Regions from separate parts of the Homo sapiens genome. Here all the other regions are linked to region 1. The links come from fine-mapping of genetic effects on gene expression. A gene starts in region 1. Each other region holds a variant in brackets. All regions are shown on one strand. Distances are from middle to middle. Region 1 holds the start of LRMDA (leucine rich melanocyte differentiation associated). Region 2 overlaps LRMDA (leucine rich melanocyte differentiation associated). Region 3 overlaps LRMDA (leucine rich melanocyte differentiation associated).

The links. PIP is the estimated chance that this variant, and not a neighbour inherited with it, causes the effect. A credible set is the group of variants that fine-mapping cannot tell apart.
Region 2: its variant is the best candidate, but not a certain one, in a credible set for the expression of LRMDA in whole blood (INTERVAL, PIP 0.66).
Region 3: its variant is the best candidate, but not a certain one, in a credible set for the expression of LRMDA in cerebral cortex (GTEx, PIP 0.70).

What each region holds. Positions count from the first base shown.
Region 1 is chr10:75,427,233-75,438,078 of GRCh38, reverse strand. It overlaps LRMDA (leucine rich melanocyte differentiation associated), which reads right to left and starts at 6,455. Exons shown (of 7, transcript NM_001305581.2): 1 at 6,325-6,455. The coding sequence starts at 6,354. LOC107984293 (a long non-coding RNA gene) reads left to right here and starts at 6,469. Exons shown (of 2, transcript XR_001747703.2): 1 at 6,469-6,557; 2 at 7,769-10,846. RefSeq lists enhancers at 5,646-6,146, 6,147-6,647 and a silencer at 6,406-6,505.
Region 2 is chr10:75,447,972-75,458,817 of GRCh38, reverse strand. The region is part of intron 2 of LRMDA (leucine rich melanocyte differentiation associated); the gene reads right to left. Among named protein-coding and RNA genes, the nearest start is that of LRMDA, 22 kb to the right of the region's middle. RefSeq lists an enhancer at 7,366-8,251. The variant A/G (reference allele first, on the strand shown) is at 5,149.
Region 3 is chr10:76,420,525-76,431,370 of GRCh38, reverse strand. The region is part of intron 6 of LRMDA (leucine rich melanocyte differentiation associated); the gene reads right to left. Among named protein-coding and RNA genes, the nearest start is that of KCNMA1-AS1, 460 kb to the left of the region's middle. The variant G/T (reference allele first, on the strand shown) is at 4,095.

The DNA.
Region 1 (10,846 bases):
ACAATCGCCCTCTCACTCAGGGGCTTTTGCAACAGTTGCTCCTCTGCCCCTTCTTCTCCCTCTCCTCCACTGCCCTCCAGTACCCTGGTATGCACATTACCTCATAAAAGACACAGCAGATGCACTTACCAGCATCCAACCTTCAGGGTGCTGGAACAAATAGGGTTGGAAAAGAAAACCTCCCCAGACCACAAATCCCATCCAGTTGCCACTGTGTACAAAATGCCCTCCACACCCAAACAAAGCTGATTTGAAGGCAACAGGGCAACAATGTGTGTCCGGGGCTCCTGAATGTCCCTCCTCCAGAGGCCCTTTGGCAGTCAATCCCACTCTGTGCACAAAGCTGTTTCTTTGGGCATTCTTCTATTTATTACAGATTATTTATTATTAAGTACCTGTATGTGCCCAAATATTAAAAAGCTGAACTGAACTGAATCTGAACTGATTCCAGAACCTGTGAGAAGGTCAGTGGACTTTCTCACTACCCTAATCACCCAGTTTTTGGAACCCATTTTTACAGACAGCACTCTGTGGGCAGATTGGCAACTAATCCTCAAACCATAAAATAAACCCATGAGGCCGAGTTGACCAGTGGGCCACAATGCATGCTGTTTCCCTAAAATACAACATGCTCAACCCCCAGCTTGAAATTCAAGCCCAAGACACGGCTATAACCTTCTTCTGGTTTCCCTACAAATCACATTCTTCCACACATATAGACAAAGATCTCTTAGAATGAGAGAGAGAGAGACTCCCCAGGAGGGTGTTTCCTCATGGGAAACAAGACTATGGTGGCCATCTTACATCCTCAGATATTAGGTTCAACTATGTGAACTACCAATATCCAACCATTTTAGAACCACAAAATAGCTCTTTTACATGGTGCAACCTAATACAAGCTGCACTGAACCCTGACACCCTCAACATCTCCAGTCATCTCTCAACCTTCTCCTATCCAATGAGGACAAACTGCTGACAATGCAATATCCTATATCCACTCTCCTTCAGTAACTTCATTCTAGGAGGAGAGAAAATAAGGAGAAAGGATAGAAAAATAGCTGACTCCAATAAAGTAATTTTGACTCAAGAAGATATAGGCTAAAAAATAAAGGACTCTAAGTTCAATCTAGCAATCTCTCCTCTTTCTACCTGGGGTCCATCTTTCTTCACAGTTCCTTGTGTAATAAATTAAGTTCTGCTTCCAAGCTGAGACAGAAATCATATGCCAAAGAGAGACTGTGGCTATAAGGCCCTATTCTATCTGGGGACTTCGATTTCCCTCAGGATCTCTGCTCAGTCAGCAGCTTCTTGGCCAGGCGCGGTGGCTCATGCCTGTAGTCCCAGCACTTTGGGAAGCCGAGGTGGGAGGATCATGAGGTCAGGGGATCGACACCATCCTGACTAACATGGTGAAACCCCATCTCTACTAAAAATACAAAAAATATTAGCCGGGCATGGTGGGGAGTGCCTGTAGTCCCAGCTACTCAGGAGGCTAGGGTAGGAGAATGGTGTGAACCCTGGAGGCGGAGCTTGCAGTGAGCCGAGATTGCACCACTGCACTCCAGCCTGGGCGACAGAGCCAGACTTGTCTCAAAAAAAAAAAAAAATTCAGCAGCTTCTTCTGTATTGTACGTTCACAATGAACCCCAGGTCCATGGCGCTCACCAGAAAATCCATCCCATTCACCCCAGCCTGCACTACTGTCTTGCACATATTATCAGTCAAGACCTCTGTGATATATATAGCAGAGACGTTGAGTTTTAGATGCAGAAACTGGGCTCTTTCCTCTTAGAATGGCCAAGGACTAAATCTAATAGACACCCAGTTTGTCAAAACTTCTGATGTTTTATACAAGGAAACTAAGACTCCAGAGCCCTGCCCAGCACAATACAGCTTCTTAGTGATAGAGCCCAGATCAAGTCCTATGCCATAAATAAGGACTTCCAACTTGGGGGCCATGGAGTGCTTACAAATCCATGTGTGGGTGTGAGATTTCTCTCTCTCTTTTTTTTTTTTTTTTTTAAAGAGATGGGGTTTCACTGTGTTGCTCAGGCTGATCTCAAACTCTGAACTCAAACAATCCCCTCGCCTCAGCCTCCTAAAATAGCTGGAATTGCAGATACAAGCCACCATACCAGGCAGACATGAGTTTTCTTGATCAGCAAATGCCAGTGGTGCATCTATCATCATGTTTTGGCTTCAAAATGAGTCTTCTGAGCTGAAAGGGCAAGAACTTCTCCCACGGTGCTACACTGAGGACCCAAGAAGAGTGTTAGAGCCTGGGAAAAGAGAGGGATATTTGCTTCCCTTTTTCTTCTGTAGGAATTCCATTCAAAGGAAACAGGAGCACCAAGGAGAGCTATCATAAAGCATTTGGATCACTCACAACATCTGATGAGACTGTCAGCAGCCTGTTTCAGTACATGGTCTTAACTATACAACATCCCAGGAAGACTAAGAAAAATACAAGTTGTTCTCACTGTTCTCAAATGTGAAGACCAAGTCTCAAAAGTTTAGCATGAGAACCAACTCGATAAGTAATCTGCATGCTTAGATAACTCCTGTGGTAAAGTAGAAGCTTTTAGAGATGTGAGTTAAGCCGACCAGGCTGAAGGGCTCAAATCAGCTGGAAAAGGCTTAAAAGCAGCAAGCAGCCACTGCCAGACATTGCAAGCAATGCTTGAAACTAGAAAAAAGACTTAAGAAGTGCTTCTGAGGGAAGACATTACCTCTCAGGATGTCAGGAAGCTTCTTAGAGCACAGGACCACCTAATGTAAGATTCAAGGCCAGAAGAGCCAAACCAAAAATAGTTTGCTTCTTCAGCAAAAGGGAGACGGGATACAGAGATTAATAGATCTTAAATGGCACAGAAGCAAGAGCATATCCAGAACACCATTGCATTTAGTCAATTACCTTGACTTAGACTGCATTGAGGAACAAAGATTCAAACTTATAATTTCTCTATTTTCTATAATTTGTACCCTAAGACCTCCACCCTGTGTGGAATAACAGGAAGGGACACCATTACCAGGCAAATGAAAATATAACAAGTTAAAGACCCCTACGGAGAAGAAACTAGAAAGGGAAAGGAGAGTGTCTGGAAGGGGTCCCCACCTATGTACACACCCAATCCCTCCAAGCCGAAGCTGCAGAAAATAACCAAACTGCAGAAGACTGCAGGTTTCACTTTGCGTTGGGACTCTCTGGCTCCCAGGGCATTTCTGGAGATGATGAGTTTGTCAACAGTCAGATGTTGAGGAGATTATTTTTTGATGCCTACCCCTAGCCAGGGGTGGGAGATCCTCGATTTTAAATTTGTAATACTGAGCTGGGCACAGTGGTGCACACCTGTATTCCCAGCTACTCAGGAGGCTGAGGCAGGAAGACTGCCTGAGCTCAGGAGTTCAAGGCTGCAGTGAGCTATGATTGCGCTACTGCATGTCAGCCTGGGCAACAGAGCAAGACCTTATCATTCATTCATAAATAAATAAGTGTATGTGTGGTACTGGAAGCTGTCGGAGTAGAAACAACCATAGGTACAAATCTGATTCCCGGTACTGCCACTGCTAGCTGTGTTGTCGCGGATGAGTCACCATCTTCGAGTCTGTTTCCTCTTCTGCAACTGGGCTAACACTAACTCCTCCAAAGGTGTTAAGAATAATGTAAAAACCAACATTTATTAAATGCCTATCATGTGCTTGTTATCTATTCAATCCTCATGAAACAGCCCCATGCATATTATCGTCCCTATTGTACTTACAGGAATGCGATGAGCTAACATATTAAAAGTGCACAACACTGTCCTTGGCACCCAGTGGCCACTCTGTTAAACAGCTGTTGAATCAGACCACTCTCCCCACAGAAGGGATTCATTATTCCAATATCTCTTGGGCGCAAGATTTCAGTGCCCAAATTCCAAGTTTGTATTTGTGTCTACGATCGTATTACGTTGTCATAAGCTAGAGGAAAGAGAAATGACTTAATGCTGAACATAAATGATGCATTCAAGCCAAGAGAAGCCAAATGAAGTCAGACCCATGGCAAATGAAAAGCCTTTTGCAGAGAAAAGCAATAGGAAGACTGCAACATCCCCAGGCATGTGGCATCATAGGCCTGTGGAGCTCCTAAAAACCAGCTCCACAGCAGTCAACCCATAGTGGCATTAAAAGCAGTGACCTAACTTCAAGCCACGCAGCATTCATCTCATTAAATTGTTTAATTGCATAGGGTTTTTTTTTCTTTGCACTTAAACCATCCCTTTATTTGGGATTTATAGGTCTCTGGATATGGGAAAGTTGTCTCTGGCTTCATGTTTTTATATTTGAGTAACATTGTAATAAAAACTATATTCACACTATGGGCTCATGGGAAGTTTTGCGGGTTTTATTTTCCTCCCTTTAAGAAGGATCTACTAAAGTCTGACAAGTACTGTTCCATGCTACCCACATCCAAGGTGCTACCTCTTAAAGCGGCCGCCATTAGAAATCGCTGGGAGCAGAATGTAGAAAAAACAAACAAACAAACAAACAAACAAAAAAACCACCTCCGGGGCCAGACACTCAAATCCACTAACCTGGGCAGTTTAGGAAATGGGGCACTAAGACTCCAGGGGCATTTTCCCAGCCTACCTTCTTAGCTCCTCCCCAGGCAACTCGGTCTAATAAAACAGTCCCCAAGGGCCTAAAATGCCTCACCCACACTTCCATGAATGCCCTTGGGCTGTTTGGAGTAGGCTAAGAACAGGGGCTGCAGGAAAAATCGAATCTAGGAAACGGAGGAAGAGCAAAGGGAAAGGAAGCACAGGAAAGTGCTCAGCCCCATGAACTTGTAGCAAGGTACACCGGGAGAACACCAAATCTGAAACGCAGAGAGACCTAGGGTCTGGGGGGCAGGGAACCCTCCTTCTTAGGTAGATACTCCAAGAGAAGGAAAAGACCCTCTTGTCCAGCCCCTCCCTCCAGGCAGTAAATTAACTCCCAGAAAAAAAAAGCCCCTTTCCCCGATGGCTGAACAAGACCCGTCATTTTTAGCCTCTCCGCAGGCTGTTAACTCACTTCTGAACTCTGGTCTTTCTCCAGCTCTCTCCTCCCAGGCTGTGGGTCAAGGGACAGAGCCAGCATTCCTGAGCAACAAAACTGTTAAATGGGGGGTGCACAGAGACAAAGGAAAGGCTAATTTCCAACAACACCTGGCATGGTGCCTGGCATACAGTAGGCACTCAATAAACATGTGTACCTGATGAAACGACAGGACTCTGGAAAAAAAGAAAACAGGCAGCGGCTAGTTTAATGGGCTGCACAGTTGGCCCTCACTGCATCTGTAGGAGCTGTAAAAACCCCTAGAATCTCCTCTAAGGAGGAATCATTCCCTTCAGCCCAAAGTAATCTCAAAATCCAATTGTGCCTGACACTACCTGCCTTAGGCAATCCAAGAGGAGAGCTTCAAAAACTCAGAACTATTTCTCCAGGGTGTGCAGGGAAAGGTGGGAAGTAAGAGGGCTCTGGCTTCATCAGAGCAGAGAAGAGGTTAAAGACAGAGAACTGGCTTTTCCAGCAGGTAAGAAAGACACCTGGTCCCAGAGTGGCTGGGTTCATCCCTCCAACAATGAACACCTGAGGCTTCACTACAGAGCTCAAAGCATGTGAGACTGGGTGTCTGGCACCCAGGATTGAAACTGGCGTGTTGCCATTCATCACAGACTCCTGTTCAAGAAATCGAGTGTGGAAAGAGAACTGGAGGTCGGTGGCCTTCCATCAGCCTTTGGCTATGGCGTAGCCCATTCAGCGCAGGGCCCACCAGCACCCTCATCTCCAGGGATGTGCTGGGACTTTGGGTACCCTAGACACTTTTGCCTTCATAAACCCCTTCCTCCATTTACAAATAAGTAAATTTGTATATTACAACTGCATTGGTATAAAGATGACTATATCAATGTGATTTATCAAAATGGATTCTTTGACCAAAAGTTTTTAAAATTCAGATTATGAAATTGGAACATTTTCTGTGGGCCCCCAAAAGCAGCGGGGGCCGTCAGCACTGTGTCCGCTGGGCCTGCTCAGTGAGGCGCTAAGGGCAGAAGGAAGTGGGGAGAACGGGAGACCTTGCGGGTGTTCTTCCCGCACATCAAGGGGGTGTGCCAGGCCCGAAACGAGGTCTGTCCTAGCCCCACTAGGGCGAGCCTGAGCACCTGAAGCTCACCCCCTGCAGACGCAGCCCCCTGAGGCGGGGACAGGGGTGTCTAGGCCCTGGGGAGCCTCTGTGCCCCGCTGTCCCTCCCCACGCGGACTGCGCCCCGGGCGGAGGCGGGGCTGGCCGGGACTTACTTGAGTTCCACGCACCACGAGCCCGGCCATGGCGGCCAGGACGCTGCGGGCGCGCGGGACGGAGCGCGGGGGCGCGGCGGCAGCAGCGGGGAGCGCGGCAGGGGAGCGCGGCGGGCGCACAGTTCCGCACTGGGCAGTCAGCTGACCCGGCGGAAGCCGGAGGCGCGGGCTAGCCTCGGGGACCTCAGCTCCGCCGCTCGCCGCCGCCGCCCCTCGGCCCGGTCTCCGCGCAGGTGAGCCCTGGCCGCCCGCTGCAACAGGTGGCCCGCAGCGCCCCGCGCCCCGACGGCGGCCTGACCCCGACTGCCCGCGCCCCTCCCTCCCCCGGATGTCCCAATGCCCAAAACTCCATGCCCACAGCTTTATCGCGTTTGTCTGGGCCACGCCTGAGGTGGGGGTATTCCTATCAGGGGCGCCCTTTCTGAGCCGTTAGCCGGGCTGTAGCCAGCCGGGCCTTTCCTGCATTTCGCAAGCTGGGTTACATAATGGACCTCAACTGCAGCGAGGAGGGGCCTCTTGGCTGAACGCCCCTCCTCATCAAAGCTGGGGAGAGGGAAAGTTAGAAGGTTGAAGGACTCCTGGTGCGGCCCAGTTTCCATTTGTAGGAGGGGAGGGGGATTGGGGGGGTTGAATTTCCCTATAAATAAAACGCTGGCTTGGTGAAGACCACCCCACCCTTTCCCTGTGGCCTCTAAGAGTTGACAATAATAAACCCTGGGGAAGGATAATTGGCTGGTGACCCCAAATTTCAGGCTTCTCTTCTCCTGCTCCTCAGAGGGCAAGAGATTTGTGAGGCTTGAAGTTATCAGTGGGGTTATTCGCTGTTCCCCACCCACCCCATCCCCACCTGGAAGAGCTGGCCACGGGCCTCCTGTCTGGATGAAAGTAGGCCCAGTGGGCAGGTAACTCCCTAAACCCATGCCTGTTTTTCTCTGAAATTCTCTGGAAGGATCCAGATTTTCTCCTTGCCTATTCTTGCCTCCAAGTCCAGGATGCACAGAGCTACCAGATATCAACTGGTTGTCATCTTCCACTCTTGCTGCAGCTAAGAGCCAGCCCAGCCTTAACTGGCATCGTCTCTCAGACAGCCCCGGTCCTAACACATTGTTAGGTGGGCCCTTGTCAGCATTTTGATGAGCAGTGTTGATCTCGGAGGGTTGACCTTCCTGCCCCTCTCTCAGCTGGGAGGAGCAGGCTCAGAAGAGTAGAGCAGTAAGAATGCAGTCTTGACTGTGTTTACTTTGGGGGATTCCAGGAAATGCTGCAACAAAAGGTCCTGCAGGCCAAAAAAGAAAGCTTACCCTCCAGAGATAAGGGGATCAAAGGGAACCTTCCCAGGCCTGTTGCCCCAAGGACCAGCTCCCCCGCCTTCTCCCTCCTTCTCTGCTGGACGCGCCCTCTCTGGTCCATTGTGCACTTTTGTCTGCTTTTCCTGCCTGAAAAGGAGGAAGTGAGCCCGGACCCAGCCAGCACTCTGCCCTCCGCAGCTGCCTTTCAGCTCAGCTTTCCTAGAAGGGCTTTGACAGATGGAAGAGGACTTGTGGAAACAGGCCCAAGCTGACTCAAAGATGAGATTGGAGAACGGCTCTCCCTTCCCCCACCAGAAGGGGGTTACTGAAGGTCATCTCATCCATCCCCCTGCCTCCATACACAGCTGGGTCATCTGAGCATAGGCTGTTCTGCAGACACTACCAATGTCACCAAAGTGGGCTGGCATCTTTCCCCCTTTCCACACCCTCTCACTACTGTTGCCTCCTCCACATAGCCCCAGGGCAACCATTTTAAAAGCCCAATTAGATCCTACCTAAAATCTTTCAATGGCTCCTAATCAAGTAATAATTAATACAGTCCAGAATCTTTAGTATGTCCCTGAAGATCTCTTATAATCCCATCAATTCTTACCTCTTCAGCCACCTGTCCCAGCTCTCCCGTCCTCTGGCTTCACAGAAGCTGTTAGTTTCAGCTGGAAATGCTTCCCCACCTACTGCTGTCTCTGCTTGGTGAACACATCAAGAAGGCCAGTTGATGGTGTGGGGAAGGATCATGTGCAGAAATCACAAAAATTAAGATCAGGATAGCTCTGTTGGAGGGGGGCTTTAGTGTTGGAACTGTAAACTGATAACAATAGGGAGCTATTGAAAGTTCTTGAGCAAAGTAGTTGTCTTAGTCTACTAGGACTGCTGTAACAAAATGCCATAAACTGGGTGCTTATAAACAATAGAAATTTATTTTTCACAGTTCTGGAGGCTGGGAAGCTGAAGATCATGGCACCCACGATTTGGTGTGTGGTGAGGGCCCATTTTCTGGTTCCCAGACAACGGCCTTCTTCCTGTGTCCTCAAATGGTAGGAGGGACAAGCTAGCTCCTGTGGGCCTCATTTGTAACAGCACTAATCCCATTCCTGAGGGCTCCACGCCAATGATCTAATCACCCCCCACAAGGCTCCACCTAAGACCTTGGAGGTTATGATTTCAACATATGAATTTGGGAGGGACACAAATGTTCAGACCGTAGCAGAAGTAATTTCCTGAATGTTGTTGGGGGAGGACACCAGCAGAAACAAACTGGATTCACCTGTCCTTACTCCTCAGCTTTTGGAGTTAGTCTTCAGAATAGAAGAACAAGGAGAAGGAGGAGGGGAAAGGAGAATAGAAGGAACAGAAGGAGGAAGGGGGGAAGGGAGAAAGGTAAAAGGAAAAGAAAAAGAATCTGTGTCCCTGGACCAAGGAAGATTGGAAGCCGGGAGGGGGAACATCCTTCTACCTCCTTATCACTGTTGCCAACAAAAAGGAAGATTAAACAGAAATAGTAAAGTTCCTCCATAATGTAGCCCTCCCTCGGGGAGGGGAGAGAGCAAAAAACAAAACAAAACAAAAAAAACACTGAGATAAGACTGACCTAGGAGTTAGACAAATAATTCCTCCGGAATACAAAGACTTTACAAGGGTGAACATAGCAGACGAGTCCTGTAGGGGCTTCGTCCTGAACACAGCTCTTTCTGCCCCAGCCCCAGGAGCACTGAGGTAAAATATGGGCTCATGCAGTCACGGTCCTCTCACCCCACTCCATGACTCATTGAAAGTGAGCTGCTAGCTTCCTATCCTGCCCATCTTACTTCACAGCCGCTGTGCCCCAGCTTCTGGCCTTGTGCTAGGCACTAGGGACATCCCTGACTAATACTGTTCAGGAGAGACGCTCAGACTTGTGCACAGACATTCACAGCACTGTGTCAGCAAGAAGTGCTGTCATTGTGATCCTGTTTTCTGAACCCCAAATTGAAGCACGTAGCCCAGCTTGTACAAGTGCACTCAGGAGGACCACAAAACAGAAAGTTCAAATCCAACCTATGCTGACCACCCTGAGCCTGTGAATTCTGGAGCTCTGACGGGCACATAGAGAGCAACAAGGTTCAACTCATACAACTGGACATTCTCTTATCGCCCTTGATGAAGAGGGCAATATTTTATTCCTATTGTCATCATTGTTATTATTATTCTGCTTTGGCAGAAGAGGCCCTTTGCCTTAGAGTCCTTCCTCCATCACATTCCTGGGGACAAAAAGGAAGATCCTGTTTATTTCCAATCAAGGGAGTTGATTCTGGGGTCGGCCAGAACCAGTGAAACAGGAACTGATTCCTTAAATCTTCCAACTGTGCATTAGCAGCTGAGAGAAGAACAGGGCCAGTTAACCAAGTTTTGTTAGCATTCCTAACTATCCTTAGCTGTATTTCTCTTCAGCCTGGCCTCATTTCTTTCAGGCCCAGCCCCCGGGCAGGTTAAGATGGTTGCTGTAATTAATCATGCCGTGGGCCCTAATTCAGACTCACCACATTCAAATTTCAATTTAAAAAAAAAAAGGCGGGGTGTCTACTTAAGAAATGCTCCGCTTATGAAATGCTCTTTGTTGCCGAAGCAGCCCCCTTTCAGCCTAAAGGAGAAAGTCTAGGAAGTGCAGGAAAGAAGAAAGGTTTCCAGGGCCCTCTTCAAAGTACTTGCACATATGTGAGGGGACTGAGGATGATCTGTGCTCCAAAGCCCCTCCAGTATTTCCCAATCAGAACAAACTGAATTTTTAAAAATATATATTAAATACCATCATAATATCTAGGATGAGTGTTCATTCCACAAATGTTAATTTATTATTCTCAGTGCCTCTAGTTTTCCTTCTCTTTTTTTTTATTTTTATTTTTTTGAGACAGGGTCCCAGGCTGGAGGGTAGTGGCGCAATCATAGCTCACCACAGCCTCGACCCCAGGGCTCAGGTGATCCTCCTGCCTCACCCTCCCAAGTAGCTGGGACTACAGGCACTCACCACCACACCTGGCTAATTTTTTTGTATTTTTTGTAGAGATGGGATTTTGTCATGTTGGCCAGGCTGGTCTTGAATTCCTGGGGTCAAGCGACCTACCCACCTCAGCCTCCCAAAGTACTGGGGTTATGGGCATGAGTCACCGCACATGGCTGTTTTCCTTCTCTTTAGGTCTTAAAAGGTTTTGTCATTATTTCTCTGTGAAAATGCAAAC
Region 2 (10,846 bases), 21 kb before region 1:
AGATAACTGTTCTCAAGCCCAAGGCAGGAAGAGTAAATTTAGTTCCTCCTGCTACCTGACGGAAAGCTTGTCCCATCAGGTACAGTCTGTGGAAGAGCAAATTGGGGAAGGGTGGGGTGCATCTATGTTGAAACTGCTGTAGAGGGTTAGGTGATAAAATTCTTCTCTGAGCTCAGAGGTACAACTAGATAAAAATCATGCCTCAAAATTGTTAAGTAAGATATGGAATTTTACTCTGACGTTTGGCTTTCTTAAAATCTTACTATAATGACATACCTTATTTAGTATTCTATCACTGCTAATAATCATCATGTTTATTTTGTTCTAATGAAGATTCTGCTTCCTCCCTCTTCCCTTTTAAAACATAATTGAATTGGAAAATGTTATACTCTCAGTTGTCCTTGCCCAAGGGAAACCTGGCCATTCAGACCCAAGTCCATAACTTTGCAATCTACAGTCTGGCAGGAAGTAGACCCCCCACAGAGCCCTAACTTTGCAAAACCAAACCTATAAACAACCAATGCCATAGGACCCCAAGCAAAATAATCTTAAAGATAAACCTGCTCAAAGTCAAAAGAATCAAAAATGAAATAAACTACTTTTGGGATATCTACTCTTTCAGTATATCTTCTACAGGAACAAAACTCTTTTACATTTAGTATTTCATTTGGTCTTCACAACTCCTTCTATCTCCCATTTGGAGAATGACAACAGAGATTAAATGACCTACTCAATATTTCACAGACGATTTGTGATGGAACAAAGACAAATACTCAATACTCAATACTCAGGCATCCTGTGTCTTAATGATCTCCTTGATTTTCTACTAGATCATCCTCCAGCCAGAAATACCCCAGCTTCTTGGTCTCCAACAATGACTCTGAGCTTCAAACTAGCAAGAGTTCAGTTTCTCAATTAAAAGTAAAAAGAAAAAATGGCAGTAATGCATTAGAGTTATGTAGTGTTAGTGATTTAAAGTGCATTTGCATTCAAATCACCTCTTTCCCCTGGAACCCAGAAACACTCTGAGGAGTGAGAAAAGAGGACAATATTCTTTGCCTGTAACTGATGGAAAATGCCGTCCAGATAAACGGCAGCAGCAAGAGGACTAAAACATATCTGAGATAGAACCAAAAACTGGTGGTCCATAAAGGAACAGGACAATAAAACTTAACCTAATTTTCTATAGACTTTCAAAACACTATTATTTAATGTACAGCCTCAGTGCCTACAGTTTTATCTCCTCCTGAAAAAATGATAAGGTGAAATATAAGTTTGGGAAGAAAATAAAACAACAGCAGCCTTAGTTGTCTCCCCCGCAACTCCTGTCACTCCAGGGAGAAGGTTTGATGGGAGAACCCATACCTCGAGTCCTTACTTGGCTGTCCTCCCTGAAAGACTCTGGCATGGCCAACTTCTACATCCCAGAATCACCACTACGCTGTAGGGGTTGTCCCCTTTTCATGAGCCTGGAAGACAATTTTCCTCTTCTCAGTCAACCTATACTAGTTTGCCAGATAAAGATCTTAGGACAACAATGAATTTGAATTAGGGGAAACATGCATCAAATAGAATACAGTATAGGAGCTAACAGTCGACTTTGTAGTCAGGCAAAGCTGCATTTAGATCTTGGTCCCCCCACTGACCAGCTGCATGCCCTTGGGAAAGCCTTTTAACCTCTGCACATTTTTGTTCTCTGTCTTTAAGCTGGAAAGAACACCTTGCTTGCCATAAAGATTCAAGAAGGTCATCAGGGAAAACTGATAGATGAATGGGAGTCACCAGTACCATTACCTCTTCTAGAATAAGCAATTACCATGTTTTTTTTAAAATCCATTTTACCGCCACGTGAGGTGACTCATGCCTATAATCCTGGCACTTTGGGAGGCCAAGGCAGGTGGATTGCCTGAGGTCAGGAATTCGAGACCGGCCTGGCCAAAATGGTGAAACCCTGACTCTCCTAAAAATACAAAAATTAGCTGGGAGTGGTGGCACGCACCTGTAATCCCAGCTACTCGGGAGGCTGAGCCAGGAGAATCACTTTAACCTGGGAGGCGGAGGTTGCAGTGAGCCAAGATTGTGCCACAGCACTTCAGCCTGGGCGAAAGAGCAAGCTCTTTTTCAAAAAACAAAATAAAATAAAATAAAATCCATTTTAGCAAAAGAAGAATTCCCAGGTTAGATTGTGTCTTCTGATAGAGGGGCACCTACCTAGTGTGTAACCCTGTCCTGGGCACTTCTGAAAGAGAAGCTGTTATCCCATCCTGGAAAAGCATACATTTCAATGGGAGACAGAGTTTCTGCAAAGGCCCTAAGGCACTCACAGAATCAATAATCTACCAATTCTCCCAGGGAAGAATGTACCCCTAAGTGCTGGCCTTGCAGAAACACTGTGGCATGAAAGAGTGAAAATAAATGCAATTTCTGAAAGATGAGGTTTCAAGTTTTGGTTCCTCCCCTTCTGAACGAGCACAGAGCCAGCCCACAGGGCCTTGCTGGGTGTGAAGAGGCACATGCTTGTGGCAGGAGTCTTGGAAGAACTGCATTAACCGTGACCCTTCTAACAGCGTAATTGCCGCGTATATGTGTCAGGGCCGAAACGCAGGCCCTGCTCAGCCTGGGAATGGGCTGCCCTCCACCCGCTGGAGGTGGCTTGTCTCCCCCGCAACTCCTGTCACTCCAGGGTGAAAATTTGATGGGAGAACCCATACCTTGAGTCCTTACTTGGCTGGCCTCTCTGAAAGACTCTGGCATGGCCAGCTTCTATGTCCCAGAATCACCACTACGCTACACAGCAAAAGGGTTTATGTCTTTGGGTGTGGGAAGAAACTTACCCTGTTCTCCAGTTTCTCTTGTGGATTCCAACCCACCCCTGAGGGCATACAGATCAGGTTCTCACCATTCCTACTCAGGAAAATCCTGGCCCCAAAGCCCTGATGTTGTACAGGCTCCGAAGTCTTAAGGCAGCATGGAAAATCCTGCCCTCCCTCCAGGAGGTGGCTCAGGTCTCAGTTTCTTCATGAAGTTTCTTTTGAAGATGCTCTCCCTTCTGACAACTTCTTGGGCATGAGAACCTCTATTATACTCCTGGCAATTAATTGGACTGTGCTATCCTGTGTGTACATAAGGTATGCCCCTGTCTAGGAGCCAACCCAGGTCTCACCTGGGTCATTTTACCTGCTTTGCTGGGCTGGCTGGGAACCCTCTCTCCATGTATAGCTCCCCAATGCCACTCACTAGCTCAAAGACAATAAGCTTCCCAGGCAGTAGACAGAGTCGCTATGTTCCCCAGTAGGAGAGAACTGAAAGGTTCTCAAAGTCCACAGGGAGAATCTGACCATGGCCCCATATTGTTCTCTAATAATTTCACCTGTATTAGCCTTATCTCCACATTGAGCATGTGAGCTTTCAAATGGGGAAACATCACAGGTGTAAGGTCCACGTGCTGGGAACCCAACTCGGGGCCTTTGCAGGAACTCTGTCTCTCGATACCTGAAGGTATACAACAATACCTATGTATCTACAATAAACAGGAGGAGACCTGCAAGGGACAGTGGTCAAGTTCTCAGCCTTTGAGTATATCTGAAGACAGTTCTGGGGAAATCACGCTATTCTGGGCAGTTCCCACTCTCATTTAGTCAAAGGATTAGTCTATTGCCATGCCTGTACAAGCCATGACAAGACCCTAAAGAAAGACCACCTAGCTCAGGTGCCTCCAAGGAGGGGTCCCGTTGTACCAGGCAGCTAGAAAGACCACTGTAACCCTACTGGCATCCTCCAAAACATAAGTGGCCCAGGCCTGACTTCTACCCACCAGTTAGAGGAAGAAGATAAGAAAAGCCTTGGTGTGTATGGTTAAATTTACCCCTACTGTCATTCTTCTGTGCTTCACGACACGAGTTGGAACAAATACAGTGCTCCTCAGAGGCAGAGCACTTGACGAAAGACTTTCAGGAGCCACTGCCAGGCTCCATTTTTCTATACCCCAGGTAAGGCTGATTTTTTTCTTGCCAAAGCCCAGCCTGAAAGAATTGAATTCAGAGTACTGATTTGCTATATCCAATTACAACTGGAAGAATGGTTAGCTCTCTGTGATATTGGTCCACCTCAGGCATCTGGGAAGAATTCACGTGAGCCAACCAGGACAGACTCGTGATCCAACTGCCAGCACAGGTGAAGATGGCTGCCGCCCAGGCTCCTGGCTCACAGCACTTTCGGAGGAAGCACTTAGAAGGGATAGGGAATACATTCTGAAAAATAAGTCACTGGAACAAAATTAACACCCCACCAGGCAATTCCAGTGCACCCTCCCCACCTTAAAGACTGTGTTGGGACTCGGAAAACGATACCCCAGAGTATGGTGCTTTGGCATGCTGAGTACTTGGAACTAAAGGAGACGGGAAGGTCTCAGAGGCTGCCTCGGATGCAAGGCCTCTCTGACCGTCTCCTGCCCGTTTTACTACCCCAAAGTGAGAGTTGCAGAAGCCAGAATTCCTCCTCCCCAAGGTGGGTCTGTAGAAAGTAGAACCCCTCTCCCCCAAAACAAACCATAAAACCTAAAAATATTACTCAAACCTTCCCCCACCTTTCTGTGTAGGAGCTGGCTACAAAGAAATTCTCTGACCTACCTTGTCTGATAGTTGGTCATAAGACCCTCATTCCAGAAGCGTCCTGCCCTATAGCCAGGAGGAAGGATGCTACACAGAGAAGCCAAGAAGAATCCAGGCAGGCAGTCCTTGCTGGGTTCCCTGCCCCCTCCGTCTGTTACCATTAGATCATACCCTTTTGTCCAATGACATTTCTACATGGCTGTCCATTCTTCATCCAACCTTAGCATAGAAACAGATCATATTCCCTGGGTTTTGGGGCCTTCAGTTCACAAGGTTCCTGTGTCACATAAAATTTTGATTAAATAAATTTGCTATGCTTTTCTCTTGCTAACCTGTCTTTTGTTACACAGGTGTCAGCCATGGCCCCTATGATGGGTGAGGAAAGGGATCACAACTTTGTACCCCTACATATGACATGCGAGCGAGTGGGCAATGCCCAACCATCTATCTCCTCAGAAGTCAGCAAAAGCTCTTAACACACCCCATCCCCTCTCACCTTCTGCTCCACCAACCCCCAAAATGCATTTTAATACATTCA[A/G]TCAACAGAGCTGAAGCAGAACAAATGTTAAAAGAAAAAAACATATTAGGGTTTTTGAGGAACAAAGCACCTCAAAACTCACATATTTAAACCTCTAGAGGGTTGTATGTCTAAGTGAAATAGAAAAGTCTTCGGGAAAAAAATGGCACCTTTGCAAACAGCACTGTATTTGAAAAGAATACATCTAAATGATCCCATGCTTTCATTTCTTTAGCAGTACGGGGACAAACTAAAGCTAGCTTCAATTAGCACAACTTTAATTTTAAAGGAATAAAAATGAAAAGAAGCTTCCTGTGCCATCAACCTATGTTTTTCCCCACTCATGTTTGCTATGAAATTCAAAAGAAAAGACAGTGTAGGAAACCAGCAGCTAGGTAGAGACTCCAGGCAGAGACAAAACTACTATAAATGCCACATTTGGACAAAGGTCAACCGCCAGAGCTCTTCTTCACACATTTTCTCTCTCTGTCTCTGAAGGCATTCACAGAAGGATGCCCTGTTGGAGGTATACAATAATATCTGAAATTTATCTTTTTTGGGTAAACAAAGCTGCATATATGACTCATCTGATTTCTCTTTGACCCATATTAAACTAAATCAGGCTGAAGTTCCAGGTAACATTACCCCTCCAGCCACCCCAAATATACAAGTCTTTTCCTCTCAAAAGATCCCCACATTTACTAAAATAATTTGAGACTCCATCGGAAAGACCATTATGCTTGTAAACTTTAAATAATTTAAATGCTTTCTTGTATATAAATATTTCATATCAGAAATTGATTTCCAAATCAAGTGACCACACTAAGCAGTGTCCAAGTGCATCCCAATGAAATAAAATACAGGCAGCTTTTTTAATGCAGTTGGAAAACTGAATTCCACATGAGGTCATGAAGGATTATATGCACAACACAGAATTAAAATTGCTGCCTCAAACTCCCTTCAAGTCAGGCTAGAAACCTATCCAGTGAAATCTCCAGGAAGAAGAGCTAAACAAATCTTTGCTTTGCTAAACTGCTGAATTTTCAGAGGAATAACCTAGGGTGGTGGTAAGGTTGACAATGGATACTGGATACATTAAAAAAAAAAAAAAAAAAGTCATATCCTGAAATCACTGAGTTTTAACCTTGGGTAAGACAAGGGTAAGGCTTTAAAACCCGATCCAAAAAAGGCTCTGGCCACTAGCCCTTATCTTGTGGCAAGAAGCAAAGGGGAAAAAAAAATCCTGTTCTAAAATTTGCAAGAAAAAACAAGGCTATGATGTGACCCCAAGTCTCAAAACATGCAGTTTCTCCCTTAGCGGCGTGAACAGCAATCACGTTGAAAAGGGTGAACAAAGAACAGAGACGCGCGATAAACACCACTAACCAGGGCTCCAGGCAGCACAGAATAAACCAGCTCAAAATAAATGGGCATCGAGACGCCAACAAAAACTTTCCACGCAGCCTCAGGAGTGTGACAGCCCAGGACCCCAGGCAAATCCTGAAGTGTAGTGAAGGAGGAAGTGAGCAGAGGGTCTGCACTGGAGCCCCTCCCTTGACCTCTCCAACAACGCTGGCCACTTCTTTCCTCCGTCCCTTCCTTGGGTACTGAAAGAAAAAGGCATAACAAGACCAAGTGGGACTGAACCAAGGAAAACATGCCCACTTCTTACACCAAGCCAACGGCACAGAATTGAGCAAATTAGCATGCACATATAACCCCCAAATGTACTATCCAGCACAGCACCACCTCACCGATGGAGACTTAGAACACACACATACACACACACCAAAAAAATGCTTTTTTTTTTTTTTTACCAGAGCAATAGCTGAGAAGAAAAAATTATAACTCCTCAAGACGTAGCGAAAGCTAAATCCTGCCTCGCCTTAGCTGCAGCATTCAGCTTGATGTAGCTAAATTAACAAAATGTTCCCTTGGCATTTAAAGTCTCTCTTTTCTTTTTTTCCCCTTAGAAGCAGGGTAGGGGATGAAGTGTAGTAAGTCAAAAGCAACTTCAAAACAAAATCAGTTATTTGTAAACAATCCTTGTGGGGAATTTTTCTCCCCTCCACTTCCCCTACCCCAAGAAAAACAGCCCTGCCAGTTGTAATAGAAAGCCAAGTAAAGATAAATCAATTAGCTTGCTAATTTCTCCCCTCTCATTTATTTAGCTCTGCACTGTATTTGTCGTAATTGACTACAATTATGTTAATTACTAACTCCAGTATAATTACTATATTTATTGTCATTGAGCACGCGATGTACCCACAGCAAAGCTGGCATTTGTCGGGCATCAAGAAAGCAAACTGTCGAGAGGTGATTCTCGGCAAACTGGCGGATGTGGCTTCAGCAAATGAAAGGGCAAAAGAGATTTCATGCAATGTTAGTTTGAAAGCACCGGTTCATTAAGGATATTAATTTTCTGATAACTACACATTTAAGCATGACACACTCACGCAGTATCTACAGGATTTCGCAATTATTAATGCGTGACAGTTTCAAATGCTAAGTGAATCAATTAAACAGCAGCATTCACAATTTGAGAAGAGATAACTGCTTCATAACTACCTAAGACTACAATTTTCACATGACAAAAAAGAGCCATTGAGGCGCCTTCAAAACCTGACAGGTCAAGAAAGAAGTTTGAAACAAAAGCACCTTACAACCATCATCTCTCCTCTTTACTTGTCAGATCAACTTTGCTAGTGTCTCCCCAGAAACGGCATCACATGCCAGCTGCCACAAGGTGATTTTTCATGTCTTGTCAAAGAAATCTTTTATTCTATTTGCTCTGCATTAACATGTTACATTTATTGATCAAGGGCCTGTTCGGCAGCCACAGCAGGGCACTGAGCTCTCCATGCCTACGGGGCTTTGATGTCCCGGTGACATTCGAGCCCGAATAATGCACATACTAAATGGATTTAATGCAGAAATGTGTTTGGGCCTGACAGTTACATTAATAACAGCCCCTCACACTGATAAATATGCAATTGCTACTATTAAGAGTTACCCAATTATGGGGAAAATATTTCTCTACCTTATAAATAAATCCATCAAGGAAAAAGAAAGTTTTAACAATGGTGCATTTTCTTAAAACACTTCTCCAGCTGCAGGAAACGGGCCGTGTGGGGGTTAACACCGCCTCTCCTGCCCTCCCTCCAATTGTGTTTAATAAGTCTTGCTTTATCTCAAGAATGGTTTGGTGATTTTTTTTTTCTTTTAAACCTCTTTTGTTGGTCTTCCCTGTTCTACCCGTCTCTTATTTCTTCAGAACCAGAGAAAAAGCAGACACCCAAGAGACTGAAAAATTGGGTTCTGTATAAACTCAGCAAGGAGCTTAGGGGAGGTGGTGCAGAGGTGGGGGCAAGCAGCTGATCTCCATAATGATGGGTCTGGAGGAGGAGCTTTAAAAAAACACTCTACGCGAAACCTGAACATGTGTGTGTCTCTCTCTCATTTAAAACCCTAAGTGACCTTGTGCTAGGACAGTGATGGGGGTGGGGGTGTGAAAGGGAAGAGAAAGCAGCTGGGATGGAAGAAACCTTTTATTAGAAAAGTCTCGGCCAGGGAGAATTTGTAGTTATTATATCCCTGCAATTAAACACAGACACCCAGCAAAAAGCATAATCGCTCCCCTTTCATCATCAAGGAGCAGGGAACAGCTGAAATCACCAACACTACAGTCCCTGAGGAGAGGAAAGAGGCCTTTCAGACGGTGGGTGTGTGCAGGCAAGTGAGTTCATGTGCAAATACACACACACCCCCACGCACCTCTTCTTTTCCCTTCAGACTCAAAATTCAAGCATGCAGTTGTCCATCTCAAGGTCCCCCAGTCCCAAGGCTGGCACCACAGTCAGCAGTTGTTGAGCCATTTGTCCCACGGCTGCGATCTCTGATCTGAACCACATCTCACAGAGCAGGGGAGAGGAAGAAAGAAGAAGATAAGTTCTCTGGGAAACTCCCACCTCCCAGGCCTCATGAGGTCCTGCCTCGCCAAACTTTCCAAATCAGAAAGGTTTTAGAGAAATGGGAGAGAGCAGGAAATGCTATATACGTATGACTTCAGGGCCTCTAGGGTCTTGAACTCAGAGCAACAAAATCTACTCAGACCCTGGTATAGTGACTTCCACAGGCTTTAATGATTCAAAAAAAAAAAAAGAAGGAAACTTCCCTCCCAATCCCCACCCAAAAGTAAATACAGGCTTGGCAGTAGCTGTCTTCTCCCACACACAGAAAAAAGATTTACACCATGAAAAGCAGTTTAGGATAACTGTAAAGCTGAAGTCAGACCACTGGGGCCATTTATCCCAGCTCTCCCATTTAACCATCAGGGTGGTCTCAGGCAATTACTCTGCTTCTCTGGGCCTCAGTTGCTTCATCTGTGAAATGTGGATAAGAACAGCTCCATTCTCAAAATGTTGTTGGGAGTAAATGAGATAACATATGTAAGTGTTCTGCCCAGCCATGGCATGTAGTGTATACTTGATAATGTTGGCTGAAAATAAACACGACTTCTTTTTTTTTTTTTTTTTTTTTGAGATGGAGTCTCACTCTGTCGCCCAGGCTGGAGTGCAGTGGCACGATCTTGGCTCACTGCAACTTCCGCCTCCTGGGTTCAAATGATTCTCCTGCCTCAGCCTCCCGAGTAGCTTGGATTACAGGCGCATGCCACCACACCTGGCTAATTTTTGTATTTTTAGTAGAGATGGGGTTTTGCCATGTTGGCCAGGCTGGTCTTGAACTTCTGACCTCAAGTGATCTGCCCACCTCAGTATCCCAAAGTGCTGGGATTATAGGCGTGAGCCACTGTACCCAGCCTAAACATGACTTCTGATGTCATCTGTCTGACTCTCTGTCCCTGGACTCCTTTGGAGAGTAGAGCCAGTCTTCTCTCTTGGTATTATTGGCAAGTCTGCTTTATCATGAAGCTCATCAAGAGAACCATTCTGCCAGCCATCTCCAACAGGGCCCCAGAGGTCTTTCTCAACAGGCTGCAGTTGGCATAGTGGGGGAAGGATTCCTTTCATCCAAAGCTGTCCTATGCCCTGACAACATTTGCCATCCCTGGCCTCACCCACTAAATGCTAATAGAGCCCACCCCCATCACTGTGACAATAAAATGCCCTCTATAGTAGCAGAATTTCCTGGTTGAGAACTTGAAGGTCTAGCAAGTAGAAAGTCTGAAAGGGTTAAATTCTCCAGTCTCCTTCCTAACACCCCCAAATCACCACTGCTCCTAACAGCCACCCTGACAATGTGGAAGGCAGCACCACTCACATGCACGATAATGTCCTCAGAACAGACAGCAGGGCAGAGGGAGAGGGTGGGGCAGTGCGGCCCAAATTCCAACAGCTCAGGGAGAGAGAGAGACTTTACAAGACAGGAAAATAAACCCCAAGATTCTGGGACAGTAAAATGGGTGAGAGGGGAAATAAAAAGCATTATACAAAAGTCTAGGAATGTCTTATCTTAGAGGCAAATGCTGCAGAAAATATGGAGACAATGTTTATGAAAGCACTTTCTAAATTATATTGCAAGTTACAGGGATCATCATCATTCAAGAAAGTGAACCTCAGGGAAGTCCTGTGGCCCCTTAGCAACTCTCTCCAGTTGCCCACCACCTCCTGGGCCAGTCTTACCGTGGCACAAAGTATCATTTTCTCTGGGTAGAAATCCAGGAAGTCAGGAAGCCTTAGGGAGGAGGGAGTGCCACAAA
Region 3 (10,846 bases), 990 kb before region 1:
ACTGAGCTGTAGGAGGGCTCACACAAACTGTGCAGTCAGCAAAGTTGCTTTTCAACAGCAAAAAGCTCCTAGTTATGGGCCCGTTCGCATCCATGCTCCTCTCTGCATCAGCCCGCCTCAAACACGTAAATTCACTCCCCAAGCACCTAGTTATTATCTTGCTTGTTCTCTACTTAAAGCATTCAGAAAATATTTAGATCTTTTTTTTCCACCCAGATGTAAATAACTGATAATAGGTTAATCTGCTTCTTCCTCCCAGGGAGAGACATATTTTTCACCAGAAACCAAAGCCTTGAACTGTAGAGATAAAGCTCCACTTGTAAAATTTCAATGTCAGCATAGAATAAGGATTATGAATTCTTGAAATCATCAGAGTCTTCCTAGTGTCCCTGAAGTCTATTAGGTGGTTTTTAATTCATTAGGAAAAAACTATCCAGATGGAGAAATGGATATAATCTCTACTCCAGATACTATTCAATGGAAAAAATACTCAGAAAGCTTTGGCCTTGAATTTGTGGAGGCAGAGGAGGGGGTTGTGGGACAATTAGGAGGTTGAAATCACTCACTGACCCTATCTGAAACTCTATATTCTATACTGCCACCCTTGGACCACCCTTGGGTTAACATTTCCTCTGAACATTCTAGCTCCCTTAGGTTATTTATTTACTTACATTTGATATTTTCTTTTACAGAGCAGAGAAAATGGAAGGAAAACAATATTCCTATCCCTAAAAACACTCACTGTGGTTCCCTAGGAGGAAACAGTAGAGCTCCAGGAGACAAAAATCCAGCTCTCAATTCCCTCCTGCCTGCCTGGAGAAATCACTCAGCACCCGTAATGAGAGGATGCAGTGGCTAATTTTGTACCATAAATCACAAGGTTAATACTATGACTAAAAAGTGATACCATCAGCTCCTTTCCTTCAAGGCTGTTAGATCTTAGTCAATTACTTATGAACAAAGATTTAAAGACTTCAGAAGCCCCTCTGCCAACAAAAGATGCTTTTACTGTTAGCTTTCTTTCCCCTTGAAAAGATTCTTGAACTCCTCTGGAAGGGGCTCCAGTGTGTTCTCAGCATTTATAGGAAGAGGTTTGCAAGGGAGCAGCAATTAACAATGCCAGGCTAATAAAAATCCTGGAGCCTCAGTATCTTCTGAATGATACTGCCGACACTCCTAAGGTAGCCTAATACGAGAGGAGAAAACACACAGAGATGGGGGAAAATATACCTTGTTTCCGACATATTTCTCAAGCTGTTTAAATATGAAACAAAATCCTACCAGGCTACAAGTTTCCAGCTGTTATGATATCATAAGATAAATTTACAGCTAGAGAAACAGCATGTTTGCTTTTATAAAGTATGGAAATATAAATGTTCCAAGTGTTAAAACTGTCCAAACAAATTAATTCAAGTAAAAATAGTTGTCTCGGATCTGGTTCTCTCACATTTGCTTTCTTTTTATAGAGCTCACCAGCACACTTCTCTCAACGCAGAGAGGAGAGGAAGTGCAATTCCATCTCGGCAGGCGCCTTTTCTGCATTTGGAAACCCAAGGAGCCCTACAGCAGGGAAGCTGGGTGGCCCCTGCCCAGGCCCCCATGGCTGATCTATTAATTAAAATCTTAATTTAGCCTCTTTGCAACAGAAGAAAGACACTGTGAAAGGGGACTGAGGCTAAAAATCTTACGATGTGCTCCCATTTGGGGATGTTCATTGTAGCTACAATGAAAAAAGAGTTTCTTTCCTCAGTGACTTTGAAAAGAATAGAGTGGTGATTAACAGCAATTTTTTTTTTAATGAAACGCAACCCGTCATCCCTGTCATCTTCTGGCCATCCTCGCTTGTACGCGCCTCCCTGACAAGAGGAATAATAATCATCATACATCACTGCTCTCCACGTCCAATCACCTAAATCTTCCCTCGCTGCAGCCTCTGAGACTCAATTACTTTATTGACATGCAATCTTCATAAGGGGAGAAATATTGTGCATGTAAGGTCACTTGGTTATGAAGACATATTATCATATTATCTGCATGAGGGTTGCAGGGCTAAGACCTGACAGAGCTAATTATAATGGTACATGATAGAAAGCTCAGTACACATTATTCGCATGGCTGCACTAAAGGTGAGCTAAGTCCATGACATCATGAGTTTTTGAGAAAATAATGCAACATTGGCTTGGCGGCTGTAACTTTTTTTTTTTTGTTAATTCTCCAACATTTTTACTTTGGGGTTTTTCATGCATGATGAAATAACTAGTTAAGGGATTCCTCCTATCTTGAAAAAGGCAGTGGCATGCCAGTGTGGGGAATGTGTGTGTGTGTGTGTTTGTGTGTGTGTGTGTGTATAATTGGCAGGGTTATTTCCTCATCTAACAGCAAGGTTTCAGTCCACTTCTCAGCAACTGAAATGACAATGACTCAAAGGAGAAAGGCAAATGGATACAAATTGGTCAACATGATAACAGAGTAAAACTTCTTTACCTCACCCTCAATTAACCCCTTCTCAAATCCTTCCCCTTTCTTTCTCTTGCTTTGCCTGGCAGAGCCTTAAGTTGCTGGGATTTAGCAGTCCTGAATATGGTTTCTTTGTTCAGATATACAGTTATTTGAGCTTTTGCCAGCAGCCACGTGCTAGAAGTTCCATGCCTTGCTAAGATGCACAGCTAGTGAGTCATTCTCTTTTTTGCATCCTCAGCCGGTTTACCCTCCTCATTCACCCCCACTGTATCTCATAGGGAGAGGCCAAGATGCTGAGCTCCAGTGGCAATCTCACAAGAAAGGAGTATCCAAGAAAAAAGTCTAGGCCAAGTCTCTGTGTTTTCTGGTCTTGGCACAGTTAATGTGGGGCCTGGAAGGAAAACTGGATCGATGGATCTATGATGGGTCTATAGCTCATGAAGTTAAATGATGAAATTAACTTCATCATGAAGTTAAAAGATGAAATTAACTTCATCATGAAGTTAAAGCCATGTCAATCTCCACAGATGGGCCTGAGCCAGCATCAAGGATGAAGGTCTGGACACCTAGTCTACTTAACAGGGGTTTATGAGCTTTCAAAAACAAGTAAAGGAACCATTCAAAATATCACTACAATCCAAGACAGGCTGGCTCCTCCTAGATATGCTCTCTCTCTCTCAATGAAGAACTAATTCAATAAAGTAGAAGAAAGCACTAAAGACTTCTAAACTCCAGAAACTGATTTAGTCTTGTAGCATGAGTGTTTTGGCTCAGCCACAAGAAGTAGTGAGCATAATAAGAAATTAAGGTTGTCCAAAGCCTGGCAGAGACACAACAAAAAAAAAGAGAATTTTAGACCAATATCCCTGATGAACATTGATGCAAAAATCCTCAATAAAATACTGGCAAACCGAATCCAGGAGCACATCAAAAAGCGTATCCACCATGATCAACTGGGCTTCATCCCTGGGATGCAAGGCTGGTTCAACATATGCAAATCAATAGACATAATCCAGCATATAAACAGAACCAAAGACAAACACCACATGATTATCTCAATAGATGCAGAAAAGGCCTTTGACAAAATTCAACAGTCCTTCATACTAAAAACTCTCAATAAATTAGGTATTGATGGGACTTATCTCAAAATAATAAGAGCTATTTATGACAAACCCACAGCCAATATCATACTGAATGGGCAAAAACTGGAAGCATTCCCTTTGAAAACGGGCACAAGACAGGGATGCCCTCTCTCACCACTCCTATTCAACATAGTGTTGGAGGTTCTGGCCAGGGCAATCAGGCAGGAGAAGGAAATAAAGGGCATTCAATTAGGAAAAGAGGAAGTCTAATTGTCCCTGTTTGCAGATGACATCATTGTATATCTAGAAAACCCCATCGTCTCAGCCCAAAATCTCATTAAGCTGATAAGCAACTTCAGCAAAGTCTCAAGATACAAAATCAATGTGCAAAAATCACAAGCATTCTTATACACCAATAACAGACAAACAGAGAGCCAAATCATGAGTGAACTCCCATTCACAATTGCTTCAAAGAGAATAAAATACCTAGGAATCCAACTTACAAGGGATGTGAAGGACCTCTTCAAGGAGAACTACAAACCACTGCTCAAT[G/T]AAATAAAAGAGGATACAAACAAATGGAAGAATATTCCATGCTCATGGATAGGAAGAATAAAATTGTGAAAATGGCCATACTGCCCAAGGTAATTTATAAATTCAATGCCATCCCCATCAAGCTACCAATGACTTTCTTCACAGAATTGGAAAAAACTACTTTAAAGTTCATATGGAACCAAAAAAGAGTCCGCATCGCCAAGTCAATCCTAAGCCAAAAGAACAAAGCAGGAGGCATCAGGCTACCTGACTTCAAACTATACTACAAGGCTACAGTAACCAAAACAGCATGGTACTGGTACCAAAACAGAGACACAGACCAATGGAACAGAACACAGCCCTCAGAAATAATACCACACATCTACAACTCTCTGATCTTTGACAAACCTGACAAAAAACAAGAAATGGGGAAAGGATTCCCTATTTAACAAATGGTCCTGGGAAAACTGGCTAGCCATATGTAGAAAGCTGAAACTAGATCCCTTCCTTACACCTTATGCAAAAATTAATTCAAGATGGATTAAAGACTTAAATGTTAGACCTAAAACCATAAAAACCCTAGAAGAAAACCCAGGTAATACCATTCAGGACATAGGTATGGCCAAGGACTTCATGTCTAAAACACCAAAAGCAATGGCAACAAAAGCCAAAATTGACAAATGGGATCTAATTAAACTCAAGAGCTTCTGCACAGCAAAACAAACTACCATCAGAGTGAACAGGCAACCTACAGAATGGGAGAAAATTTTTGCAATCTACTCATCTGACAAAGGGCTAATATCCAGAATCTACAATGAACTCCAACAAATTTACAAGAAAAAAACAAACAACTCCATCAAAAAGTGGGTGAAGGATATGAACAGACACTTCTCAAAAGAAGACATTTATGCAGCCAACAGACACATGAAAAAATGCTCATCATCACTGGCCATCAGAGAAATGCAAATCAAAACCACAATGAGATATCATCTCACACCAGTTAGAATAGCGATCATTAAAAAGTCAGGAAACAACAGGTGCTGGAGAGGATGTGGAGAAATAGGAACACTTTAAACTGTTGATGGGACTGAAAACTAGTTCAACCATTGTGGAAGTCAGTGTGGTGATTCTGCAGGGATCTAGAACTAGAAATACCATTTGACCCAGCCATCCCATTACTGGCTATATACCCAAAGGAATATAAATCATGCTGCTATAAAGACACATGCACACGTATGTTTATTTGCGGCACTACTCACAATAGCAAAGACTTGGAACCAACCCAAATGTCCAACAATGATAGACTGGATTAAGAAAACGTGGCACATATACACCATGGAATACTATGCAGCCATAAAAATGATGAGTTCATGTCCTTTGTAGGGACATGGATGAAGCTGGAAACCATCATTCTCAGCAAAATATCACAAGGACAAAAAACCAAACACTGCATGTTCTCACTCATAGGTGGGAACTGAACAATGAGAACACTTGGACACAGGAAGGGGAACATCACACACCAGCGCCCGTTGTGGGGTGGAGGGAGGGGGAAGGGATAGCATTAGGAGATACACCTAATGTAAATGACAAGTTAATGGGTGCAGCACACCAACATGACACATGTATACATATGTAACAAACTTGAACATTGTGCACATGTACCCTAGAACTTAAAGTATAATAAAAAATATATATGAAAAATAAATAAATAAATAAAATAATAATTATTATTAGTAAGTTATAGCTTTTGCATGCCAAGTACTGCCTACAAATAACCTTTCTTCCTTATAATCCTTCAAGGTAGATTTTATCTCCATTTTAAAAGTTAAGAAATTGAGACGCAGAGGTTAAGCAACTTGGCCAAGTCCACACAATCAATAAATGACTGAGTTGGGATTTGAACTTGAGTCTGTCTCATGACAATGGTTAAAAAAGAAAAAAAAAGAAAAAAAATTAAGGTTGTCTAAATTCTCTCTTATTTAATACTCTAGGAACTCAAACATCTGAACTCCTTATACTAATGGCTCAAAAATAATGGTGACATTGGTAATAAAGCCACAAACAGATCTAGACCTTTTTTTCTGAGTTGGAAATTAAAGTGTACATAATGTGATATTGACATTAAGTAAATTTGATGGCGATCTGTTATAGTGGAAATGGTAACTCTTTAGACACCAAAATTTTGGATTGGCTATTTTGGATTGTTGAGTTCACTGCATTGCATCTCCACGTTCCAGCATCTCAAATACAACAACTGAGATGCAATGCAATGGGGAGGTTCACAAAATGTCCATTTCTAAAAGCTGAGATGCTAATGGGGAGAAAAGTGTATGGTCAATAGAAAGAGAGATGGGTTAAGGTTTAGAAGATTAAAACTCTACTCCTGACTCAACCACCCATCATAAACTTGCTGGCGCTTTTTAGTCAAGGCACAATCTCTCTGTACAGGTTGGAGAAATAACTTGGGAAAGACAGTAAGGTGCCGTGAAAAGACTACTGTTTTGCCTAATCAACAAACTGGGTTGAAAATCTCTCTACATCACTTACTGGCTTTATGATCCTGAGCACATTCTTTGCCTTCTGAGCTGCAATTGCCATTTTATTAAATGGGTAATGATATCACCCACTTTGAAGGATTAGCATATGAATTAAATAAGAAATGAAAGTGAAGATATTTTTGCAAACAAAATACACTTGATGAATGGCAGTTATTGTTACTGTTGTGGTCCTACCTGTTTTTGTTTTTGTTTTTGTTTTTTGAGATGGAGTCTTGCTCTGTGGCCCAGGCTGGAGTGCAGTGGCACGATCTTGGCTCACTGCAAGCTCAGCCTCCCAGGTTCACGCAATTCTCCTGCCTCAGCCTCCCAAGTAGCTGGGACTACAGGTGCCTGCCACCACGCCTGACTAATTTTTTTGTTTTTTTTGTATTTTTAGTAGAGACAGGGTTTCACCATATTTGTCAGGATGGTCTCAATCTCCTGACCTCGTGGTCCTACCTGTTTTAAACTGTTACGCAGGTCAATCATGTAAGTAAACATCAACTGTAAAGGGAAAATCCCAGTACTAAGTAAGGTGTGATTGTTATTCATGAGGGTCACTAGATCAGACTCTCAAATATGAGCACTTAGATCCTTAATGTCAAAAATCACTTTTATCAGACAATTGTTCAATATCCACAGCCATTGATATTGTCTTAGAAAACAGAAAGGAAAGTTTTGATGGCAGAAAGTGATGGAATGGAAGGGTAAGTCCCTTAAGACCAGAACACAACTCCATATAGAAGGTGAACCAGAACTTGGGATCACAAAGGAGCCCCTCTGGCCCTCTAGGAATCAGAGCATACTCTGTGATATTTTCCCTCGCAGCCTAGAAGTCAGGAGACCCCCAGGTCTAGTAACCATGGACACCTCCCCTCACCCCTTGGGGCCTCATATTCTGTATCTGAGAAGGTGATTCCTAGTCATTGGTTTTCTATAACAAACACCTCCTCGGTTGATTAGGGTCCACCGTTTAACAAAAATAGACACATGGGCAATGGGAAAACTCATTCTAGCTGAGTTAGGGCATCAGATTTTGATCGAAGTCAAAAGGGGACTAGAATTTATTACCAAACAGCAGCAATAGCAGCAGCTAAGTTTGAAACAGTGCCATTCCCTTTATAACAAAATTTATTAATTTTTAATTATTTTATTTCAAACTCTTGTGAAATCTGAAAAATCACTCAATTAATCAATAATCACATGAATGACTTCATACAACCCAGCCAACAACCTTATGAAAGGGTATGATTGCTATGCCCATTTTGTCAGAGAAGAAATCAAGGCTATGGTAAGTTAAATGAATTTATGTCTAGGTCAAACAACTAATAAGCAGCTTTATTTTATTTTATTTTATTACTATTTTTGAGACAGAGTCTCACTCTGTTGCCTAGGCTGGAGTGTAGAGGCACAATCATGGCTCACTGCAGCCTCGATCTCCTGGGCTGAAGCGATCCTCCCACCTCAGCCTCACAAGTAGCTGGGACTGAGGTGTGCACCATCACACTCGGCTAATTTTTACATTTTTTGTAGAGGCAGGGTTTTGCCATGTTACTCAGTCTGGCTTCAAACTCCTGGACTCAAGCGATCTGCCTGCGTCAGCCTCCCAAAGTGCTGGGATTACAGGCATGTGCCACTACGCCTGGCCTCAATTTTGTTTTTTAAATACACTCATCTTCGTGGAGTTTTTTGTCCTTGCTATAAAAGAGGACATTCACGTCTTTTGCATCTTGACCATTATTAGATAAAATAGGATATAACTTTCTCAAAGGGTTTTGTTGGTTTGCCCACTTGTGGGCAGGATTGAGTTGTACAGTTAGCTTCTTCAGTTCATTGCAGAGATTCAGGAATGCAAGTTCTTTTTTCATGAGGAAGTAAATTGCTATAAATCCATTGGAAAGAACAAAGACTTCAGATGGAGAGGGGAGATTCAAAGGCAAAGTTGGCTGTATGTGTAGGGGTAGATGCCCCAGGGGTATTACTGAGACCCAAGCAAACAACAGCAAACCTTTCACTTCTATTCTTCCAAAATAGTTATTTCCATCAAAGGCTGTAGGCCTTCAAAACAGCTCTATTAATAAAATGCAGTTATCCATGAGGAAGAGCTTCCCCTTAAGAATTAATACTTTCTTATCAAGATTTCTTTGACAACTGACCCTAGAATGAGACATGAAATAGGGGCCTGAGTAGAAAGAGGCTTAGCTTTTTATGTCTTATGATTAGACAGACTGAGGAGAGCATGGCGGGGCTGGGTTTCTGTCTTTGTAATGTGGATGATTTAGCCTCAAATTCAAGATCTGTAAAGTGTGAATAAAATAATTTGATGAGAGTGAGAGTGAAGTAGATAGACTAGCTGGCTGAAGACCAATGCTCCCACTGAGAAAAACTAAAAATGCTGAGCTAAATATGTGTAGAAAATCTTACGTCAGGGCCTCAGTGAGTTACTAAGGCAGTGACGACCTGAGAGGATAAGATCTTGGGGAGAGTGAGCGTGTGGAGACCTGAGTCCCACATTCAGTGCTACTGTCTCTCATGAAGCAATTTTCAATTCTCAACCTGCAATGAAGAGGCTGAGTAGCTGAACCAAACTTCACAGTCTTATAAGTCTTGGTGGACAAAATTAGACTGAAGATATGCCAAGGAGAAGGGGTCCAGGTAGACATCCCAGACTTTCAGCGAGGACCCTGAAAAACTACATCACAGGTGGAAGGGCAACTGGAAATAGATCTGTCCTCACCAAGTCTGCAGCCCAGTTTCCCATGGAATAAATCCCTAACTGGACTAAGGCAATCTTCCCCCACCAGACCTTCCTCCCAGAAACAAAATATGTCTTCTCTGAAGGAATATAACATTATTCAGAGCCTCAAGTTTTTTCCTATAATTTTTGTACTCAGTGTCAAGTATGAAATATCATGTGGCATACGAAGAGACAAAACCAAATGCCCAAAGATCCAAACCATCAATCAATAAGAGATAACAAGCTACAAAAGAAATGGATATTGGAGTTATTAGCCACGGACTGGAACATATCAATCACATATATTCTAAAGATGCAAAACAGCAAATGAAGGAATTTAGAAAAGAAATGACAACTATACAACAGAGTCAAATAAAAATTCAAGGCCGAAACATACGATAGCTTAAACTAATAATTTAATTGGTATATTTAACAAATGAGACATAATTGAGACTATTAGAAAAAGGGCGGCTGTGTCACAAGGAAGCTATATTAAATGTTAGTTAAGATGTCACTATATTAATTGTTAAATAGTCTATATATCACCATTAAAAGGAAGGTTTTCATAATGGATTTCAAAGTAATATACTGCTTACAAGAAACATATTTTAAATAAAAGCCTTCAGAGAATTTGAGAGTAGAGAAGTGAAAAGAAACTACACAAAGCAAATACTAGCCATAAGAGAAAGTGTATGTTTACAAATACCAAATAAACTAAACTTTAAGACAAGGACCATAACTAAAAATAAAGGGAAAATATTTCATAATGACAAAAGAGGTGGTTGTTCAGGAAGATGTAGAAATTCTAAATGTATAAGTTCAAAAACACATGAAACAAAAATCAACAGAACTATAGGGGACAAAAAGGAGAATTTCACAATCATAGTGGGAGGTTTTAGCATACTTCTCTCAGTAAGTAAAAGAAGCAGATAACAAAAAGGAATTAAATAAAAGATTTGAAAAATATAATTAACAATCTTCAAACTTGATCATACGCACATGTATATACACACACGCAAATGAAGAATACTGCACGTGAGGACTAAAGACATTGCACAACAGAGAACATTCACCCAAATTAAACATATTCCAGGCTATAAAGCAAGTATCAGGAAATTTGAAAAGGCAGAAATTGTGCCAAGTATATTCTCTGACCGGAATGAAATTACCTGTAAATTATTAACAAAAGATAACTAAGAAACACTTAAGTGCTGGGAAATTAAGCTACATACTTCTAAATATCTCAACAGTCAAAAAAATCAGCATAGAAATTAGAAAAGATCTTGAATTGAATGACTATGAAAGTATGTCATAAAAAAATGTAGGATACAGCTAAAGCCACGCTTAGAGACATATATATCAATAAATGCATATATTAGAAAAGAAGAAAGCCTAACATCAGTGATCTAATTATTCATCCTAAGAAATTAAGGAACAGAAAATAAAACCAACAAACTGGAATGAAGGAAACAGTAAAAACAGAAAATAAATGAAATTAA